2 separate regions of the Homo sapiens genome follow, and region 2 is linked to region 1. The links come from fine-mapping of genetic effects on gene expression. Tissue or cell type: whole blood. Region 1 holds a variant in brackets; the other region holds the start of a gene. All regions are shown on one strand. Distances are from middle to middle.

The links. PIP is the estimated chance that this variant, and not a neighbour inherited with it, causes the effect.
Region 2: EDEM1 starts here. The variant in region 1 is fine-mapped to the expression of EDEM1 in whole blood (INTERVAL, PIP above 0.99).

Annotation. Positions count from the first base shown.
Region 1 is chr3:5,212,755-5,222,694 of GRCh38, reverse strand. It overlaps EDEM1 (ER degradation enhancing alpha-mannosidase like protein 1), which reads right to left. Exons shown (of 12, transcript NM_014674.3): 11 at 9,173-9,376; 12 at 2,737-6,866. The coding sequence ends at 6,777. Among named protein-coding and RNA genes, the nearest start is that of EDEM1, 30 kb to the right of the region's middle. RefSeq lists enhancers at 1-377, 8,810-9,311. The variant C/T (reference allele first, on the strand shown) is at 4,081.
Region 2 is chr3:5,183,002-5,194,182 of GRCh38, reverse strand. It overlaps EDEM1 (ER degradation enhancing alpha-mannosidase like protein 1), which reads right to left and starts at 6,476. Exons shown (of 12, transcript NM_014674.3): 1 at 5,869-6,476. The coding sequence starts at 6,377. RefSeq lists silencers at 4,371-4,490, 5,688-5,977, 6,028-6,197, 6,438-6,847 and enhancers at 5,488-5,537, 7,959-8,018.

The DNA of each region.
Region 1 (9,940 bases):
AACCAAACCATTCACAATGGCACCGTGAAAATAAGTAATTCAAATTTAAGCTGTTGGAACTTTTAAATATTTCAAGCCTTAAGGAAATGTGATTATGGGACCTGAGTTCAGGCATCTGTAACCTTTATTTTTCTGACTATAGATTAGCCTTCTTCCTTACCTACATTGCTTTGTAAGAAGTGACTAAAGGGCACCAGGGAAGACTCCTTCCTTCTTCACTGTTGATCTTCACTATAGATTAACTTCCCTCTTCCCTTTCTCACACAAAGACCTCATGACTATCACACTGTCTCAAGAAGGAATGTTAAATGGACTCTTAAATTGGAAAGGACATGAAAACAAGCTGTACAGAAAATAAACAAAACTGTAACAAAACTGTTGTTAACTCGTAAACCATCCTCGTACGGAATATGTTTTAATCCTACTAGATATCTTTGTCTTCTACCTATGTAAGCAAGACCTTAACTTCTAACTTGGGAGCATTGACCCCATTTTTCTGGAGTCTGTGTTCCCTGGGTAACCGGTTATTCCCGGCTTTGGGATCTAATAAACTCTTAATCATATATCTAATATACTTCATCATATTTTCTGAATTTCATCATTTAAGGTTGACGGCATCTAAAAGAGAGCGTCAGGCTGTTGCTTCCAGTGGGTTCCGCTGTGACAGGAAGCAAGATTGTTTACTTTCCAGGGTTCTCTGCTGGAGAAATGGAATCATAGAATTTACCGCTCAGGACTTGGGTGAGGTTTGAATGTAACAGGCTTTTAAACCATACACACATGCACGTGAGTGCACACAAGCACATAGACAGACACACACACACACACACACACACACACACACACAGAGCCAGAGTGGGGAGGGACTGTTCATTCTTTAGGCCACTGACTAGCAGACTGGGCCAGACGCTTAAGCACAAAGACCAGGTGTGCTGGGGCACAGGTACCACCACACCCAACCACTCTGCACCTCCTGGTCTGGGTTTCTGAGTTAGGAAGACATTAGCATACTTCCTTGATTAAAGAAGGAAAAAAAAACTTTAAGGGACAAAGAGACATAACCTGTAAACATTTTAGCAGCTGCCGCCTCACACGCTGACAAATGTAGCTTCTAATTCATTTTGCCATCACGGGAACCCTAGGAGTTGATGTGCTATCATCTCTGATTTTAAAAGTGAGGACACCGTGTGAAGGTGAGTGCCTTGACCCAAGCCACACATCCAGGACAAAGCCAGGAGGCCAGCCCAGCCTCCCCATGGCCAGCCATGTTCTTACTCTTCCTCCAGCATCCCTGTTTAAGCCCTAGGTCTGATCCTGGATGTCAAATCCAGCTGGACCATAATTATAGGAAACACGTTAAGTGCCTTACACATATGAATCCACCCAGTCCTCACAACTATCCTGAGTATGGGCTATTATTATCAACCCATTTACTAGACAGGAAAACTGAGGCCATCAAGTCTGTAACTTGCCCAAGGCACACAGCTAAGTTAGGGGTAGAGTTGGAATTGTACCCAGCACCGTGTGGCCCAGAGTCCCCATACTCCACCCGACACTGACTACAGCGTTCATACAGGACTGCTGGGCTCCACTTGCTCCACAGATGGCAAAGGGCCTGGTGCTCCCACTACTGAGGCAGCCTGGAGTGGGAAAGGCAGGAAGGCAAGAACCCTGTGGCTCTTGATTTGGTCCCTTGGCCCACTGGACTTGCTTGGTTTTGTCAAGATCACAAACCCACAAGACTTGACAAACACAACCCCACCACCCCTCACAATAGTAGAGCTCAATGTGGGCAAGGTGTTTCCAGCCTTGAGAGTCTCTCCTTCGCCCTGTCATGCTTCGTGGCCTTTAAAAAGGCCCATCAGGCGTGGTGGCTCATGCCTGTAACCCCAGCACTTTGGGAGGCCAAGATGGGCAGATCACCTGAGGTGAGGTGTTTGACACCAGCCTGGCCAACATGGTGAAACCCCGTCGCTACTAAAAATACAAAAATGAGCCTGGTGTCGTGACACGTGCCTGTAGTCCCAGCTACTCAGGGAGGCTGAGACAGGAGAATCAGTTGAACCCAGGAGGCAGAGGTTGCAGTGAGCCGAGATCGTGCCACTGCACTCCAGCCTGGGTGACTGAGTGAGACTCTGTCTCAAATAAAAAAAAAAAAAAACCCGTATCAAAATTGTCTGTGACCAAAGCTGGGACACAGATGTCACAAAGCAGGAGCAGGTCCCTTCCTCAGGATCCCACCATGGTCCCCAGTGGCAACACACAGGGAGGGAGGCCAGCCCTCCAGAACCCTCTACCCACACGCTTCCCATGGGCCTCTGCACCCACACAGACCGTGAAGTGCCACTGCTCTCAGAGGTGAGGAGAAATGAAGCGCCTTGCTTAGATAACGCAGAGAACTGGTTTTAGATCCCAGATACACTCAGCTAATTGGCAATAAGAATAGACAATGAACTCAGTGGCCAAGAGAAAGGAGGCTGATGCAGAGGGGAAGGCCAGGGCTGGGACAAAAGTCATGAAAAGCAGTTCTGACCTGCATGTGAGGGGCATTTAATGGAAGAGTGTGACATACAAAAATGTAGTGGAATTCCATGGGGGAGGTATTACTTAGGGCTTAGCTATAAAAAGCAAGGTTTTATTCATCTAGATGGGCACTTCCTTTAGAGACTTTTCTCCCATTTGTCTTGCATGTAATGTAATGTACATGAGAATGTAAAAAAGAAACAAGATGACAACTCAAAAAAAGAAATCTTTTAATAAAAATTACTCATAAAAATCCTAATAAATTTTAAAGAGCAAGATATTCCTTATTACATTTATAAAAGAACATTTGGTCCTTTTACAAAAAGATCCCTTTTAATTTAAATACATTTCTTATTTACAGATTAAACATAAAATATCATCTACAGTTGCAAAGCATATTGCACATTACAGAGAAGCATTTGTGTATTTCCGTAAGTTTTCCCAGAGTTTCCAACTCTATACTTTTTTTTGTAAAAAGATTTACCTTTCTTATGCAAAATAAATAAAAATGCAGCTTGTGTTTTGCTATTTAAAACTAAAACAAAATAACCTTTAAAAATATTATTCCTCTGCCTTGCAGAAAGAAGGAAGAGGGTATAGAATCAGGGAGTTCCACAGGTACTTGATATTTTTACCAGATTCACGTCCAGATTCAAGCGGGAGCATAACCCTGAGCCCTGTGAAACCTGGGACACAGGGCCCAGCCCGTCCCACCTCCTCGATTTCCCAAGGGGTCCCTGCCCTGCAGGGAAGAGGCACTAGAATAGGAGCTGGATGCTGGGAATGGACAGGAAAGCTCAGGATTTTCTTCTAAAGTTCCTGCTCAGCCACCCTGTGGCTAAGGTAATCACTCAGCCCTACCTTTTCACCAGCACTACATTTGAAAAAAGATTTTTGTTTTTGTCAACAGACAAAAAAAATTTATCAAAGAGAAAGGCCCCTGGTGCCCTCCAGAAAGCAGAAAGGAATGTCTCATGTTGAGTCTACACAATCCAAAGAGGAATTACAGGTGGTAATCATTCAGTAAACTGAACTACGAAATCATTAAGAGGGATATTTTCCTTTGGTGGGGAGAAGGGGAAAGGGGAGGAGGAAACAAGGCCCTCAGATTGCACAACTGCACTGACCAAACCAGGTACTTCTACAGACGCTCCTCTAATAGTCACGTGCACAGACACCATCCTGGTGCATTTTTCTTTAAATACATAGAAAATTATTTAAGTGTCACGTGCACAGTCCATGATCTAAAACAAGAAAAGCCCTGAGGATTCAGTTACAATGAGTAAGTTCCAGCACAAGCGCTGCCAAAAAAAAAATTTAAAAAAATGAAGGAAAGATTTGAATACAGAAGCTGGTTTTTCACAATGGCCAGTGCAAATGGAGAGCTAGCAAACCCTCCCTTGCCACCTATGATTCTAGAAGGGATTCCTCGGTCACATCAACTAAAGTAGCTAAGCTACTGTAATGATTTGAAAGTTTGTTATGAGAGAATTATGCTTTGTCAAGCCAACTATAAGGCAGCTTTCTACAACAGTTCTGCAAAATGTTTCCACCACA[C/T]TGAGCAAAGCTGACACTAGACACTAGCTACACGTGGGAATAGGAAGATGGGCCAGGCTCAGAGCCGCCGCAAAGGATGAAGTCCACTCAGATTTGAGGCAATCCTGGGGCAAAGCACTGAGCAAAGCAACTTCTCTGGTAATCTCCTCCTCAGCCATTCTCTACCCAGTATTTCAGAACACAGAACAGAAGAAACTGCAAAAGCCCTGCAGGATATATCACAGCTGTTAACATTCTGACTTTAAAAAAAAAAAAAAAAAACAAGTAACCTTTGAAACTGGCTCAAAGAACCTTCTGGCATCCAGCCCCACAAACCACTGACTACATAGCATCAAACTTTGGACGGGGTAGTCTGGAAGCTCAACAACCAGGATTAATATGTACTAACTCACTCACCCTCAGTCTCACCCACTGGTATTAATTCCAGTACCCAGAAGTCAAGTGGGTTTGTGACTTAACATAAAACACGTTTCCTGACAGCCTGTGGCCCCTGGGAAGCACCTGCAGCATTGTGTAGTTTGCAAGCATGAGATCCCTATTCCCTATTCCAGGAGCATGAGGAGGAAGGAACACCCAGGCTTGCTCGAGTGACAGGCAAAGTGCCTCATTAAGAGAACACTGGAGTGCTTACCCACCACTGCCGCCACAGAAGCCAGAGCGGGAGAGGAGGGGAGCGCCAAGAGAAATCACAGGCAGGAAGAACTCACCTCCTTCTCTGAGATGCTCTATTTTCCCAAATGGGTCACTAACAGTCCCACCTGTTTGCCCAGAGACAAAGGTACAAGTATGCTCGTGTGTGCATGCATGCATGTGTGTGTAATTAACATTTTCAATGAGTCAGTGAAAACATTTAAAATATATATATATATTATTCTCAAAGTTTTCTATTCAGTAGATGGGACACTGTTAATAAACAGAATAATGCTTCTGAAATGAAAAAAGGTAAAATAGAAGCATTTTATTTTTTCTATTTTAAAACAATTGTTGTAATAAATGTTTAAGAGATAGAGATGGCACGTTTATTACTGAAAATACTCTTTTCAAAAATCTCAAAGAACTGAACTATATAAAACCATAACACTTAAAATTTTCAAGAAGGAATAAGATTTCTCCCTTTTGACTAAAAATGCAACATAAACTTAGACAGTGCTTATTTCTAGCTTTGAAAAGATGTACATGAAATCCTTAGAGGTGGGAAAACAGTGACAGGTGAGAACCGTGCTATGTGAGGCTGGAAGTTTTAGGGATTTCCTACCTTTTTTACTAGAATGCGTTTCCACCCATGACGCTTCATGGAAGCCAGACTAAGAGTCAACCCTGCTGCACTGTGTAAGAGTAGCAGGTGTGTATCAGTGTGAGTTCAAAGAGAGATGTTCTGGCTAAGAAAATAATAACAAAAAAACAAAGGCATTTTAGCACAACTTCCTCCTTCTACATGCTTACTTTTACAGGATGAAAGGCAAAGACTGGCCAAGCAATTTCCATCCCCCTTTCACCACGGTCTCACCATGTGGCTAAACAGGCCTCCTGAAACCATAGCAGTAGCTGCGACATCCAGTGCCCCAAACCAAAACCAATATAAGGCACTAATCTAAAGCCTGTATTACACAGAGAAATGGCTCAAGGATGCTAAAAGTCATGTGATCATTTCTTTCTCCCTGATTTAGCTAATTGGCACTAGACACAGAAAACAGAAACAAAACAGAACTCTAACCCAAATATGGTCAGAAGTGAGAATCCTTGCTTAGGAAATATGAGAAAGATGGAAGCTCAGACAATCTTAGGTATTGTTCTCTCCCTAAAAGGCACCTGATTCTGGAACTATGGGAGTTCCTCAGGTAAGTTCATATTCAAAATGCAAAATACCACCCAAAAGATGTCAGTTAACCTCTTAGACCATAACATAATAACCTAAGAGACTATCTGTTAAGAATTCTGGTTAAGACCATTCTTCTTAAGCAAATAATTTGTAACACTGTAAAGATTACTTGAGGCAAACATGAAAAACTGGATGACTTTTTCTCCCATGTGATCCAAAATCACGGTTGGATATCAGGGGAAGACCCCAATTATCTAACAACAGAAAGGATGACATTTTCAATGCAATTAAATAGGGATACCAAATGAACCATGGGCCCTTTTGCAGAAATTTCATTCTCAATCCTCTAACAAAGAAGTAGCTAGCCAGGTACAGTGGTGCTCACCTGTAATCCCAGCTACTCGGGAGGCTGAGGCAGAAGGATCACTTGAGCCCAGGTAACCCTGTCCCAAAAAAATATCAAGACCCTGTCTCAAAAAAATAAAATATAATAAAAAAAATTTTTTAAAGACATAGCAATACTCCAGTATAGCAGGTGCCAGCAAAGTGAAGAGACTTAGGTTCTGAAGTATAAAGCTGTGAACATCAATCCAAAGATGCCCCATCTATTGTGCTTATAACATCAACATGTCATAAGAGGGCAATTTCCATGTATCTTCTCACTTCAAATTATATCCTTAACAGGGCATTTTATTGAACAGGAGAGAAACACTGAAGTGTGCAAGGATTAACCAGACGTGGTGAGGTGTTGCACAGAAATTCCTACACCACCATGGACAGCAAGACTTCTGTCCCCTTTCATTTCAGACTGGACTTTGGCATGGTCTGGGTTTGGTCGTTAAGGTCTGGTTCAAGATGAGGCCTCACAGAGAGCAGATCAAATCAAACCAACCATCTGGTCAATCTGTCGCATGTAGATGCTCTTTAAGGGCAGGGAGTACCTCCTCTCATCAGGTACACGATTGCACTAGAAAGACAAAAACGAGGGAAAATTAAAAACTCATATGTTGCTCTCTCAGGAAATGTGACTGGATGACTTAATCCAGGGTTTCTCAGCCTGTGAACTACTGACGTTTGGAAGTAACTGTTGTGGAAGCTGCCTGTACACTGCAGGACGGTCAGCAGCACCCCTTGCCTCTCCCACTAGGTGCCAGTGGCAACTCCTACGCCTCAGCTGTGAAAATCAAAAACGTCTCCAGACGCTGTTCCAATGTTCCCTGAGGAGCAAAATCACCCTCAGGTGAAGACCAGTGACATAATTTAACATCCTCACTCACTTTATAAAGAAATGGCAGATCCAGGGAAGCTAAAAGGCATCGCAGCAACTGCTTCGTGGCCAGGACTGAAAGCCACATCCCTGGGGTCCTTAGTCCGCCCAGAATTTCAGAAAACATTTCTGCTACTTGAAAATACTGTGTTTTTCTGAGCTATGTTTTTCTCATTCACAACTCACTAAACTCTAAATGCTTAAGACTATTTCTTTAATTAAAACCCCCCCACCCCCACCACTTTTTTTCCTCAAAGCAGATGCACATCTTGAGAACTAACCAACTGTGACATCCCTGGAAGCAGTTGTCTAAATACATTCATTATCTGCTTCATCTCCAAAGAAACATTTTCCCCACGCTTTGTAGTAAGTTGAACTTACTACACCCTGCTCCTCATCCCTGGCAAGATCAAGACTGGCCGGTCCTTCCATTGGTCCCGACTGCCCCCACCAGCCCACATCTCTGTGCTTTTGCAGGTGCTACTGCTTCTGCCTGAACACCCTTTCTGGGATACCCCTTTTCATCCTTCAAGGATCTCCAGCAAGTGACCTCCTCAGGGAATCCTGCCTTGATTTTCTCTGGAGATTACTCCCTACCCTCTGTGTTTCAACAGCACTACAGACAAACGCCTAGGATGGAAGTGGATTCCCCACTAGGCCATGCTCCTATCCAGAACCGGGAGCCCTTCTGAGGGCCTGAATCCCTGGTGCCTGGAATCATGGGATCAGATCTATTAGTGAGTATGGCAGGTCAGAGATGTCTCCTTCCTAAAAGAGAAGACACTGCCTGGGTCCAAATCCTGGCTCCACTGTGGGACCTGAACCTCTCTGTGCCTCCCTTTCTTCAGCTGTAAAATGGAGATGTTAAAAGTAACCACCCCTCACAGGGCTGTTGTTAGAAGTAAACAGATTAATGTACGTAAGCGTTTAGAATGGTGCAAAGGCTAACCCTGGTATGTGTTTGCAAATGCTGGCTGTTATTAACTCTTCCCCCTCTCACCCTCCTTCCCCTTCCTCCCGATTATGCTTTGTCCACTCAATCAGCGCTCCATGACTGATGGAAATGGGGGCGGGGGTGGTTATCTACACTCTGGCCTATCGATTTACTTCATAGACTGATGGTGAAGACCTTCACTGGGGCATTAACGGAAAAGCACTGAAGCACAGTCGGCGATGAGAGGGCACCCCTAATGCCAAGGCAACCCATCTGTGGGGAGGCTGCCGAACTCCTGACCACCAAGGCCCTGGGGGATAACAAGATTTGAAATTTTGACTGACCTACATTTCCCTATCCTCACTTCCAAATCATCCTATTTGATTCAAATCAACACAACTACCTGATACTTTCACTAGGGATGCAAGGACTTCCATTTCCAAATTTTTCCTGCTGCTTCTCAGGACAATCTAGGCATGTGGAGTAAAGCCCCACTTTAAATGAATGTGGGTGTTTGCTGCACTTCGAAGAGCATCTTCATTGGGACCATCGTGACCATCACTGCTTTTTTTCCCTTCTGCTGCTGGTAAATGATTTTGCTGAATGTCTTCCATTTGCCCCTCCAGGTCCACTGATGGATCATATCAACAGGCTCCCTCGGCCTCCAGCTTCTGCCCCAGGCAGCCAAGAAGATGCTCCAGCAGGCAACTGGGGGAGCGGGGAGGGGTCACATGTTGACTCTGCCGGCTCCCTCCAGGCAAGGCCTTGAAAGTCAGATCTGAGCCGTGGCTCCTGCTGAGTGCTCGCTCCTCCCACAAGGCTCCCCCCTTCCAGGATCCTGTAGCCACTCTCCCCACCAGCACCTGCAGCCAGCAGTGATGATGCCACCGCTGCTCCTGCGGTTTCCCTATACCCTGACAACAGCTATGTAAATGGTGTCTTTAGGAGGTGTTTTCAAATCTCCCAATCTGCATACACCATCAATTTTCTGTCAGGAAGTCTGAACAACTAAGCAATTCATAGTATCTTCTCTTCCTCTATATGCAAATCACCCCTGGAAAAAGCAACTCACGTTGGAGCTGGAGTTGATGACTTTTAACTCATGAGGTTTCGGCCTGTGCACAGACTTTCCCCCTTGGTCCTGCCCTCCCTCTTCAGAGAAGAATTCCTTCCATGGCAATTCCCGAAGATGCTCATCCACAGATACAATGTGTCCCTCTGTTGTGAACATGTATCTGGTTCCAGACTTGTGTACTGGATTGTCTTCATCAAACAGCTAGAGGGAACGGAGAAAAAGATACAACCAATAATTGTAGCACACTGGGAACTGAATCATGGGGGCGTGTCCCAGCTACTCAGGGAGTAGAATTTGCTTGGGCCTCATGCTTCTCAGTGACAACTGGGTGAAAAGGAATTGACTGACAACTGTGGTGCCCAACCCAGGCTGCAAGGCAGAATCACCTGCTTCATCTAAACTCAGATGCCCAGACCTGCCTCTCCCCTACACATACCCTGCCCAGACGCAGAGACTCAGAAATTCTGAAACTAAGGCCCAAGCACAGGTAGTCTATAAAAGTTCACTGGATGATTTCCATGTGCTACCTAAGAGTTCTCCTGCTGGAATTCTAGAACTACACCCAACCTCACACACACCTAGACCCTGAACTGTAAATGCTGACAGGGAGGGACCAAGTTTTATCCACCACCATTTCCCCAGGGCCTAGCACAGAGCCCAACACATCTGCCAACATTCACTTCACTTCTTGCACAACAAGGGTTGGGCTCTGAAGACGCAATGGACACAAGGCACAGTCCTTTCCCTCAATGGTGCATGTGACAC
Region 2 (11,181 bases), 29 kb after region 1:
TGCAGTCTTCCATCATATCCCAAAGCACTTCATCTGCTCCTCGGATCACCCTAATGGGTCCTTATCTCACCTTCCAGTCAGAGAAGCTTCTGGTGCACAGCACCTCTCGTGTTGTGATGGCTTGCTGTGGTCTCTGAAAGGCCTGTGCCTCAGCTGGGGAAAATGGGGCTTATGTGAAAGAGGCATAACAGCTCCAATGTCTCATTTTATTTGAACCCTCCAGTTGCCTTGTTTTATGCTGTTACACCATCTAATCTAAAGCAAAGAATTTATAGTAAAATTTTAGGCTGGGTGCGGTGGCTCACGCCTGTAATCCCAGCACTTTGGGAGGCCGAGGTGGGTGGATCATCCAAGGTCAGGAGTTCAAGACCAGCCTGGCCAACATGGCAAGACCCTGTCTCTACTAAAAATACAAAAATTAGCTGGGCGTGGTGGCAGGCGCCTGTAATCCCAGCTACTAGGGAGGCTGAGGCAGAAGAATTACTTGAACTCAGGAGGCGGAGGTTGCGGTGAGCCGAGATCATGCCATTGCACTCCAGCCTGGGCAACAAGAGCGAAACTCTGTCTCAAAAAAAAAAAAAATTTTAGATACTGTTTTTTTGAAACGAGATATATATGGGGGCTATAGTCTAGGAACTAGGGCTAGCTCATTTCCTATAAGCTGGGAAGTCAGAAAACTGCTTGGCTGGAAAATTGTACCTGTTTTTTCTATTTGTTGATTTTCTGGAAATAAACTTATACAATAGCAAAAGGTCCCCTCAAAGCAAGAGCTATGGATTCAAATATGCCTCTCAAGCGCAAGTGACAGCCAAAAAAGGTACAAAAAGTGCAAGGGTTGCAGGAGGGGCTCAAAGGAGACAGGGAGATCCTTACGCCCAATTCTGCCAACTCAAGAATGTTCTGCTCTGTGTAAATATTTCACTCTGTTGCTCTGCCGCTTAGAAACAGAGTGGGCTTCAACAGCCCACCTCATCAGAAAACAGCTCCCTCATCATGTAGCATCCAAGCTAGATGGTAATCAGGAGAACCACATGTAACTCCCCTCTCCTGAGTCACACCCAGATCTGCGGCATGTGTCATTCTATCCACCTGCACAGGCCCATGGAAGGAAGGTACTCACTGTGAGCACTGAACTCCTTTCTATGTTTTATTGTGCTTTGCCTTGTAATCTATAACTAAAATAGACCCAGTTTTAAAATATTTTTTACAATGCCCAGTCACTAAAAATTAATGAGCTGCCACAGTAAAAAAAAAAAAAAAAATTACTTGCAGTAACTGTGGGGTTTCTTCTCTCCACTCTAGTCAGACAAATCCTCTCTAAGATCTGGGGTATTTACTCATTAGAACACTTTTAATTCTTTCTTACCAAATAATTGCTACATCCTCTTTCAAAAGGTGCCAAAATAAGGGGGAAGTGGGAGTGAGGATGAAGGAAGAAAAAAAAACACCATAAAACTCTACTGGCCTAACAGCATGAAATTATTATGACTCCATTTATGCCAGCCCACTATGCAGCTCAGACTCTGGATTTGTTCTTTGTAGATATTCTTGTCAATCTCCAGCCTAACCTGATACCTTTAAGTTCATCCAGCAAGAACTCAATACCTTTCCCTGTAACCAGCTGGCTGAACCGCACAACTAAACGCTCCACTTACTTCACCAGGTACAAATGTTCATGGCATTCACCCCACTGTAAATTTTTAAAGTTCACCTCAAAACAGAAAAGATGGAGAAAACCATGGCCTTTGATAGAAAATTTTTGATTATGTAGCTAACAAAATCAAACATATGTGTTTTTAAATTTAAATTCCCATGTATACTTAACCTGTAACAGCTGTTCAGAAATCTACCTGGTGTGGTGTAGGCACAGAGATAACATAAGAAACAGTCCCTGCGTTCAAGGGATTGATAATCTGGAGAGACAAGACAAAGGGAAATGCAGGTGAATACACAACAGTACTCAATCCTCAAATAAGGTTAAAATGTAGAATCGCAGCTCAAAGGAAAGGAATCAAAAGAAGAACTGAGCAAATAAAGGAAAATCATCTTCAAACAGTTAGATGGTGTCACGGAAACAAGAGGAGCCTGACTCTGAAAGAGGGCAGGACTTTCCAAAGAAAGAGGAATGCAGAGGAGGCCATCTTGAGCTAGTAGTACCTAAGCATTTGAGGGGCCAATATTTGTTTGGCTTAATTTGAGATTTGTTTTGTTGTTTTAATAGCAATACAGTTGAGAAGAAATTGAGAATGGTCACATGCCCAAAAGCCAGAACTACAGTTAACCATTCACAGGATTACAAAAATATAATATCCACATTTACTCAAAGAAACTTTAAATTTGGATCCTCCAACCCAAATTAAGGATGTGAGAACTGACTTTGCATAGTTATCTTAGACAGATCTGCTCTTTTTAGAGTGTTCAGGTTTTATTCACTTCATGTTAACTCCTTACCTGATACCTCCCCAAGAACAAGTCACATGTACTTGAGGCAAGATAAGTTTGGAGCATATATGACTACAGAGAAACGGTAAGAGTGTTTAGCACCGAAATTTTCTATGTGTACTTTTTATATAATACTCTAATGGCAAATTCACTCTTGTTAAATGAGTCATTAGAATACATTTGATTTTTTAAAATCTGAAAGATTTTTGGCTGGGCTTGGTGGCTCACACCTATAATCTCAGCACTTTGGGAGGCCAAGGCGGGAAGACTGCTTGAGGCCAGGGGTTTGAGACCATCCTGGGCAACAAAGTAAGACCCCACTTCTACAGAAAAATTAAAAAAAAAAAAAATTAGCCGAGCATGGTGGGGCACACCTCTAGTCCCAGCTATTCGGGAGGCTGAGGCAGGAGGACTGCTTGAGCCCAGGAGTTCAAGGCTGCAGTGAGCAATGATTATGCCACTGCACTCCAGCCTGGGTGACAGAACAATACCCTGTCAATTAAACAAACAAACAAAAAATATGAAAAATTTTTATTACAGATTATTTAGTTTGGGGATGTGAAGTACCCTCCTGTTTCAAAGCCAGCATGACAATACTCTGGTTTTAAACTTTCCTCAAGGCCTAGTATTCGATAGCATAACAGGAGGACTACAGTCAATAATAATTTAACTGTACATTTTAAAATAACTAAAAGTATAATTGGATTGTTTGTAACACAAAAGAAAAATGCTTGAGGGGTTGGATACCCAATTTTCCATGATGTGATTATTACAAATTGCATGCCTGTGCCAAAATATCTCATGTACCCTATAAATATATACACCTACTGTGTATCCTCAAAAATTAAAAATAAATTTTTTTAAAAAATATTTAAAAAAAAGCAAAGCCTGAGAGGAGTTAAAGGAAGGAGAGTACAAAAAATTAAGTTTTCCACTGTTTGTAAGTGGCAAGTGTGAGGCGTCCATGCAAGGCTTCTTTGGCCTCCTCAAAGACAACAAAGGTTTACCAACCAACGGGCCTACCCAGCTCAGGGCACAACCCTTCCCTAATGCCATCCCCACCTCCTCAATACTTCTAAAACCCTCTTTCCAATAACACATCTGTCTCAAAGCAACCTGACCTTAACTTACGCATAACCAAACCAATGCATAACCAAACCAAAACACTCATCGGCAGCCTTCATCCTGAAATAAAGGCCAACAGCACACATGATACCACAAAGACCAGCAAGTTAAATCAACCACCACCTCACTTTGCTGGGAAGGGATTCTTAAGGTTCTCCAGAAGCGCTTTTAAGGTTCATTAAGAAAAACATTAAAATGTCATCAACTCACTCTCCAAACCGTCATATTCTCAAATGAAAGTGTTATCACAATTCCCCGTTAAACTGTTTTCAACTTCAGTCCACCTGATAAAAGGTAATCTGAGAAACAGTCTGTGAGCAGGAATAAAGGCACTTATTGGAAGTGCTCTCTCCCTTCTTGTAATACCAAGAGCACTAGTGGAAAAGCACAAATTAAGATCCAAAATATGTACACATACTATGATTGCAACTATGTAAAACATGCATAGACATATGGGTAGGAACTAGTGGCAAAAATAAATTTAAAATAGCTGGTGGGATTTTATGATATTTTTCAAACTTTAATGATGTTGATTTAAAAAGAAAAAACATCAAAGCATGATGTAGGCTGACAACAAAAAAAAGACCACAATTAAATGAAGTTTATCCCCCCCCCCAAAAAAAAAACTAAGAAAGAAAATACATTTATAGGTATAAAGTCCCCTCTAGTTAAGTGAGCCAAATAATTCATTCATTTCTTAAAATCTGGAAAGACCATGGCCGGGAGCGGTGGCTCACGCCTGTAATCCCAGCACTTTGGGAGGCCCAGGCGGGTGGATCACGAGGTCAGGAGATGAGACCATCCTGGCTAATACGGTGAAACCCCGTCTCTACTAAAAATACAAAAAATTAGCCGGGCGTGGTGGCACGAGTCTGTAGTCCCAGCTACTCGGGAGGCTGAGGCAGGAGAATCACTTTAACCACAGAGGCGGAGGTTGCAGTGAGCGGAGATCGCGCCACTGCACTCCAGCCTGGGCGACAAAGCGAGACTCCGTCTCAAAAAACAAACAAAAAATCTGGAAAGGCCAAATACTTTTTTTTCAAAATTTAATATTTTTTCTCAAAAAAATTGAGATAGAAAATACACTTATACGTATAAACGCTATGGTTAAGCAAGAAAAACTCATCGGTTTCCTAGAATTTTGAAAAGGCTCAGTCCTTTGAATTTAGCTTGGGATGTCCCCTTGCTTCGGTAGAAATCATGCTCTCAAACTGCAATTTAAAACATAAATGTGTAAATAACCACACCATTTTAAAAACCCAACTCCGTTTAGTCTATAGGCTTCCTTATCAGAACCTAAGGACTGGACTCCACTGCTTTCCTCCAGGTGAAGGAAAATGCTTGCCCCAGACGGTGCCAAGACACTGAGCAAACCAACTCCTCCACTCCCATCCAGGGGAGGGGAGTCAACTATTTGGACTAACAGGGTCTATGGCAATGCACATTCCTTCCCTACAGGTAAGAGGTCCTTAGCTGGGTGTACTGCCCTCTTGGACTTTGATGTCAACAGTGGTGACCCTTGGAGCTCAGCCTTTGCAAACAAGGCTGGTGAACAGGGAAGACTGCCTGACCTTCCCGGACAACCACGCCACCAGAGGCGGGGGATTTATAGACAGATCGTACAGGGCGATGACGTTGACAGTCAATCTGGCATCCAGTGAATTTCACCTCAAGTATCTGGACCCCAAAAGTGGGCCACATAGCTTCCCTCCCCACCACCTAACTATCCTCAGCCTAAGAAGCAGCCCCTGTGAAGGAGAGGCTGTAACCCCGTTCTGCCTCAAACTCAATGGACGGCTTTGGAGAAGTCAACTATAGGCTTTTTACATAGAAAAGACGTGGGTGTGGCAATGTGATAGAGGTGGGGGTGCGAGGTAAAGGCTTGTTCTGAGGCTGCGTTTACACGGGGGGCATGATGGAGATTTCATTTAGAGTTTATGCTCATCCGGAGGAAGGGGTCGGATGGAAGTGGAAAGCCCTCCAAGCCAGCCCTTGGCACTGCCACTGTCCCTTCTGGTCCTGGACCTCAGTATCCTCACGCGTAAGACACTGAGCTGGACAGCAGTTCTGAAGTTTGGAGATTCCGGGAGAATCAGGAGAGGAAGGCCACCGGCCCACCCCGCACCCTCAAGCTCGGGGGTCTTCACAGGGACTCACACGGGACAGGGCGCGGGAGCGCTGCCCGGGACCCTAACGGCCCTGGCGCCCTCGGGGGCCCCGGAGGACAGAGGGCTGCACCCCGGCGCGGAGGGCGGAAGGAAGCGCGTGGGCGCGCGGCCCCGGGCGGCGGGGGCTACTCACGGGTCCCCGCGGTCGGGCCCACGGCCGCGGCAGTGGATGGGGTTGAGCTCGTCCTGGGGGAAGGCGTGAGCCATGTAGTTGTCGTAGCCAAAGACGAACATGCCCCGTGCCAGGTCGCGCATCTGGGCACGCAGCTGCGGAGGGAAGGCGCCGCTGTAGCGCTTCTCGTACTCGTCCGGGCCGCGGCCCCGGCCGCCCAGCACGTAGCCCCAGTTGGCTGGGCCGCACATCCCCGGCCCAGGACGCCGCGGAGCCTTGCGCGGGCTCTGCGCTGCCCCGGTCCCCGGCGGCTGCAGCCACGACGGCCCGGATACCCCCCCAGGCCGGCCCACGGGCCCCGAGGTGGGCGACGCGGGGCCGTCGGGGCTCCTCAGACGCTGGAAGCCGAAGCTGAGCGGAAAGCGCTGGTAGAAGCCCATGCTGGGCCCCAGCCCGAAGACGAGCCACAATACTCCATGGAGGCCAAGCCGGAGGAGCACCAGCCCCAGGACGAGCGCTCGCCATTGCATGGTCGCGCGGGCGCCGCGGGCATTATTTTAAAGCGCGGGGGCCTCCCCGCCGACCACCGCACCCCGCGCTCGCCCCGTAGCCCGGCTCGCTTCCCCTTTAAGGAACTCCCCCGTGACGCACCAGGAACTAGCCCATCGTCCCCAACCCCCAGGCTCTCCGGCGGGCCGGCCAGGCCCCACGGTCGCCCGCCCAGTGGCCCGGGATTGGCCCGGCCTGGGCCCGGCCTCGCGGGGCGCGGCCCAGGACTCCCTCCCACGCAGTAGGCCGCCAGGACGTCCGCGACGCCCCGAGGCCCCGCCCCTCACCCGGGCCCCGCCCCAACTCCCAAGCCCCGCCCCCCTGGGCGGTCCGTAGCCCGATGGGCTGGCGTGGCGAGCAGGAGCCGCGCCGGCCCGCGAGGGAACTTCCAGCCAATGGGAGAGCGGCACGGCAGCGCCCGCCGGACGCTGGACACAGACGTGACCCCAGACCGCCTGGCCTTGGGTGGATCGGGTCTCTGGGCAGAGCGTGTGTCCGGCAGAGCTAGGACCGGAAAAAGCCACTCTAGGTCTAGGTTAGGAGTGATGACAGTTAAAAGATATATAAGGAAAAGAAGGAAAGGATCGTTTCTGTATAAAACGAGCTATTTTTGCATATCGAGCGCATAAGTTTTATAACTTAGGTGTCTGTTTATGGAGAGGGTGGGATACTACCTTTTAGCTCAAGGAGTGCACAAAACGGTATCATGAATTCTGCTCTTTTGATTCAAACACCCAACTTTGAAGAATCGCTCATGGTGCTTGTAAAACACGTATCCCCAGATCCCTCCCTAGACCTATCGAACAACTCCAACGGTCTCGGGAATGTGCGTGTAAGTACTCTTGGACAGTTCTTAGAAACTGGAAGTTTCAGGAAATACAAAGTTATGTTATATTGCTTTTGTCTCGGAAATAGGATTTTTTTAAAAGGGGGGGGCGGGTTGGGGGTGGGAATGAAGGCTCCCACCACCACCAAATTATTTACCAGATATATCTAAACATGTCTTCTCCTGTCCCTCCCATCCTACCATCTCTCCTGTGCACCCGCAATTAGTGACCTAACCTTTGAGGTGTGGGGTAGATTCCCAGTTAAATAACTTTACCCCTCTGTATCTACTTCCTATAATTAAGAAGATTGCAAATGTTAGCTCTAAAGGGCTATGGCTTTCACATAAAGATTCAATGGTTTAGGCGCTTATTTATTTTGCTTGCTGCATTTGGAGTTGGCTGTAAGTTTTGCCCTCCCTAAGTTTAGACCCTATGCCTGTTTCATCAGGGTTTCTGAAAAGCTTGGGAAGCAAGACCTGACTAGACCCCCAAATCTGATATTGGCTGAATGGCCGACCAATGGAGTGCATAAGAAGGTAAGTTGTCATGTGGCACTCTCATCACATTTTCAGGGTAGAGGACTTTCTGAAATACAGAGGAGGTGTAAGGGGAACTAAGAAAACACTTGATTACAGCACATGGTAGCTGGCACATAGGAAGGTCCTTACTGTTGGCTGAGCCTTGTTCTTTCCCAACATTGAGACATCGAGAGCAGCCCAAGCAGCAAAAAGATTACGAAGACAGCTTGAGCCAGGGTCTTTAGACTACACAGCTTCTGCTTTTTCCCCTCTGTGAAGGATGCCTAGGGACTGTGCTGGCAGCCCAGCTCCAGCCCTTGATCCTGAACTTCTGCCTTCCTGGAACTTGCAAACTGAATGTGAATATTCAGTTGCATGTTGCATGTTTCCTTCCGGGGCTACTTTATTGCAAATTTTAACTTAAATTTGACCTGGTTAACTGCAGGCCACATTGAGGACAGCTTCTGTCTTGATGTTAGAGAAAAACTCTTATAAAAATAAATCTTTTAATAACCAGAGAAAACCATCCAACTCCTGAAAGATGCTTTTCATAGTAAAACTGATGGTTTTCAAAACACTTTGACATGTGTGCTTATTTAATCTTCATAGAAAACTGTAAAGCTTATTCCACAAGCCATAATGGAAGAAATCAGGTTGGGGGCTCAATTCTCAGAGCCTGTTGGCTCTAGGCAGAAAGGGAGTTACTACACTTTAGGGCAATTTGCACTTCAAATAGCTGGCCCTTGAGCAGACAGGTCCCTCTGCTCTTTCCAAGCCACCCAAAAGCAATAGTTTTGACATTAGTGCCCTGCAAGGCATAGCCTAGGCATTAGGGTCTAGGTTCAGAAAGTGTTTCCTTCTGGAATGAAACTGAAATGAAAGAAATGGGTTATTTTGTGCTAGTCCTTTCGATTAGGACTCTCCTTAAGCTAAATGTACTGATAAGATTGGGACAACACCCATACCCAATCAGAAAACTCCAGTCTTGAAAATCAACTCTTTAAGATAAACAGTTTGATTTGTGACAGGTTTTCCGGTAATCTCACAAGCGCATCAGGGACTGATAAAAAAGGAAAGGAGGCACTTTTTCAGTGTAAAAATGGCTTTACTCTGGGGAATGCAAAGAGATGACAACTAAGAACTCACATTCAGAAGTCAGGTGTTCAAATCGTAGCTCTGCCCTAAGAGTGACCTTGGGAAGTTACTTTTCTAGGACTTGTTTCCTCATCCATAAAATGGGTGAGTGATGAGGACAATGTTTATCACAGTTGTGATTACATCATATATATATATAAAGTACTTACAACCGTGCTACATAGTGAGACCTATTAATACTTTTCAACTCTGAAACTTTTAAAACTAGCACCCGGCTGGGCGTGGTGGCTCACACCTGTAATCCCAGAACTTTGGGAGGCCAAGGCAGGCAGATCACTTAAGGTCCGGAGTTCAAGACCAACCTGGCCAAAATGATGAAACCCCATCTCTACTAAAAATACAACTACCCGGGCGTGGTGGTGGGCGTCTGTAATCCCAGATACTCAGGAGGCTGAGGCACGAGAATCACTTGAATCCAGGAGGCAGAGGTTGCAGTGAGCTGAGATAGCGCCACCACACTCCATTCTGGGCAAGAGAGTGAGACTGCGTCTCAAAAAAAAAAAAGTATTTCAAAAGCAGAGGTTTTGCAAAGCTGAAGGCCTAAAAAAAAGTATATAATTACAGTTCAAACTTATTTGATGGGCACAAATCCAAGTTTGTCAACATGCTCTGTTAGCAAGATACAGGATACTCGAGAGGCTGAGGCAGGAAGATCCCCTGAGCCAGTAGTTTGAAGCTGCGTTTCCTATGATCGTGGCTGTAAATAGCCAATGCAATTACCTGGGTAACAGTGAGACTTCATCTCTTTTTTAAAAAGGCATAGGGGACTGGGACTGGTAAAAACAAAAACTAGTACTTCCCGTGTGAAGGGTCATTTGGCAATTCCTAGTGTCAGAAAAAAATTACAACAAATTTACTTACAGATCTAACTGGCGTTTATTCATAACTTATGAATGGGGCAGCCTCCATTCTACAAAACAGAATGAAAGCTCCCAATGAGAAACAGCAGAATAGTGGGTTTTGTAAGATGAGAGCAAGGAAACAAAACAATGAAAAATAACTGATTGGTTAACATCGGGTTACTTTTTTTTTAAGGGTTAAAGAAGAAGGGACTTCCTTATTATTCTGATTCAGACAGACTGGGATTTTCTGTTTTCAGGAAAAACTGGTCTGTAAAGTTTCCATGTAACTGTGTGGCACTTAATATATGTAACTACTTTGGTCTGCTAGGACCTAGTGCAGAAACTCAGTCCACAAACAATGACCCCCCATAATTTTGGTTTAACGTTAGCACAAGTCGCCAGGCGCGGTGGCTCACGCCGGTAATCCCAGCACTTTGGGAGGCTGAGGCGGGTGGATCACTTGAGGTCAGAGTTCAAGACTAGCCTGGCCAACATGGTGAAACCCCATCTGCACTAAAACTACAAAAATCAGCTTGGCATAGTGGCACATGCCCGTAGTCCCAGCTACTTGGGAGGCTGAGGTAGGAGAATTGCTTGAACCCAGGAGGCGGACGTTGCAGTGAGTCGAGATTGCGCCACTGAACTCCAGCCTGATGACAGAGCAAGACTATCTCAAAAAGGAAGAAAAGATAGTGAGATTCCCTTCTAGCAGTTCTAACACCAAACCACTGAAACAAATATATGAACTATACATCAAAAATATTCATCATGCACATGCCCATACCATGCTCTAGCCTTTAGGTTACTGATGCTTCCAGAGAATATAGGAATTCTATAAATCCTTAACCCTTCTTTGAATGAGGGCTAGCGCTTATAAATTAGCTAATAGTATGACAAATAAGAGCAATTTGAATTTTTCTTACAGAATAAAATATACAAATGGAAGAGTTATCTAATTCACCTATTGGGTAGTAGATAGAAATGGTGAATTCTCTTAAGCCACAGAAACAAGCTAGCACATTGTGTGATACACATTGTACAACACTGAGGGTAAGTCACAATTGTAGATAAGAATTGGTTAAGGGAGATGCTATAATTAGCAAGTGGTTAATGTTCTACTTCCCAAGTCCAAAAGGGGATACAATGGTTTTGTTGGTCCTCCAGCCCCTTTACTTTTAAGAGTAGTATTTTCTAACCATTCCAGGTTTCTCCAAAGCTCTGGATAAATTCTAGCAGAACCTAGCTGGCCGGGCATGGTGGCTCATACCTGTAATCCCAGCACTCTGGGAAGCTGAGGTGGGCGGATCACAAGGTCAGGAGATCGAGACCATGGTGAAACCCCGTCCCTACTAAAAATATTAAAAAATTAGCCAGGCGTGGCGGCGGGCGCCTACAGTCCCAGCTACTCGGGAGGCTGAGGCAGGAGAATGGCGGGAACCCGAG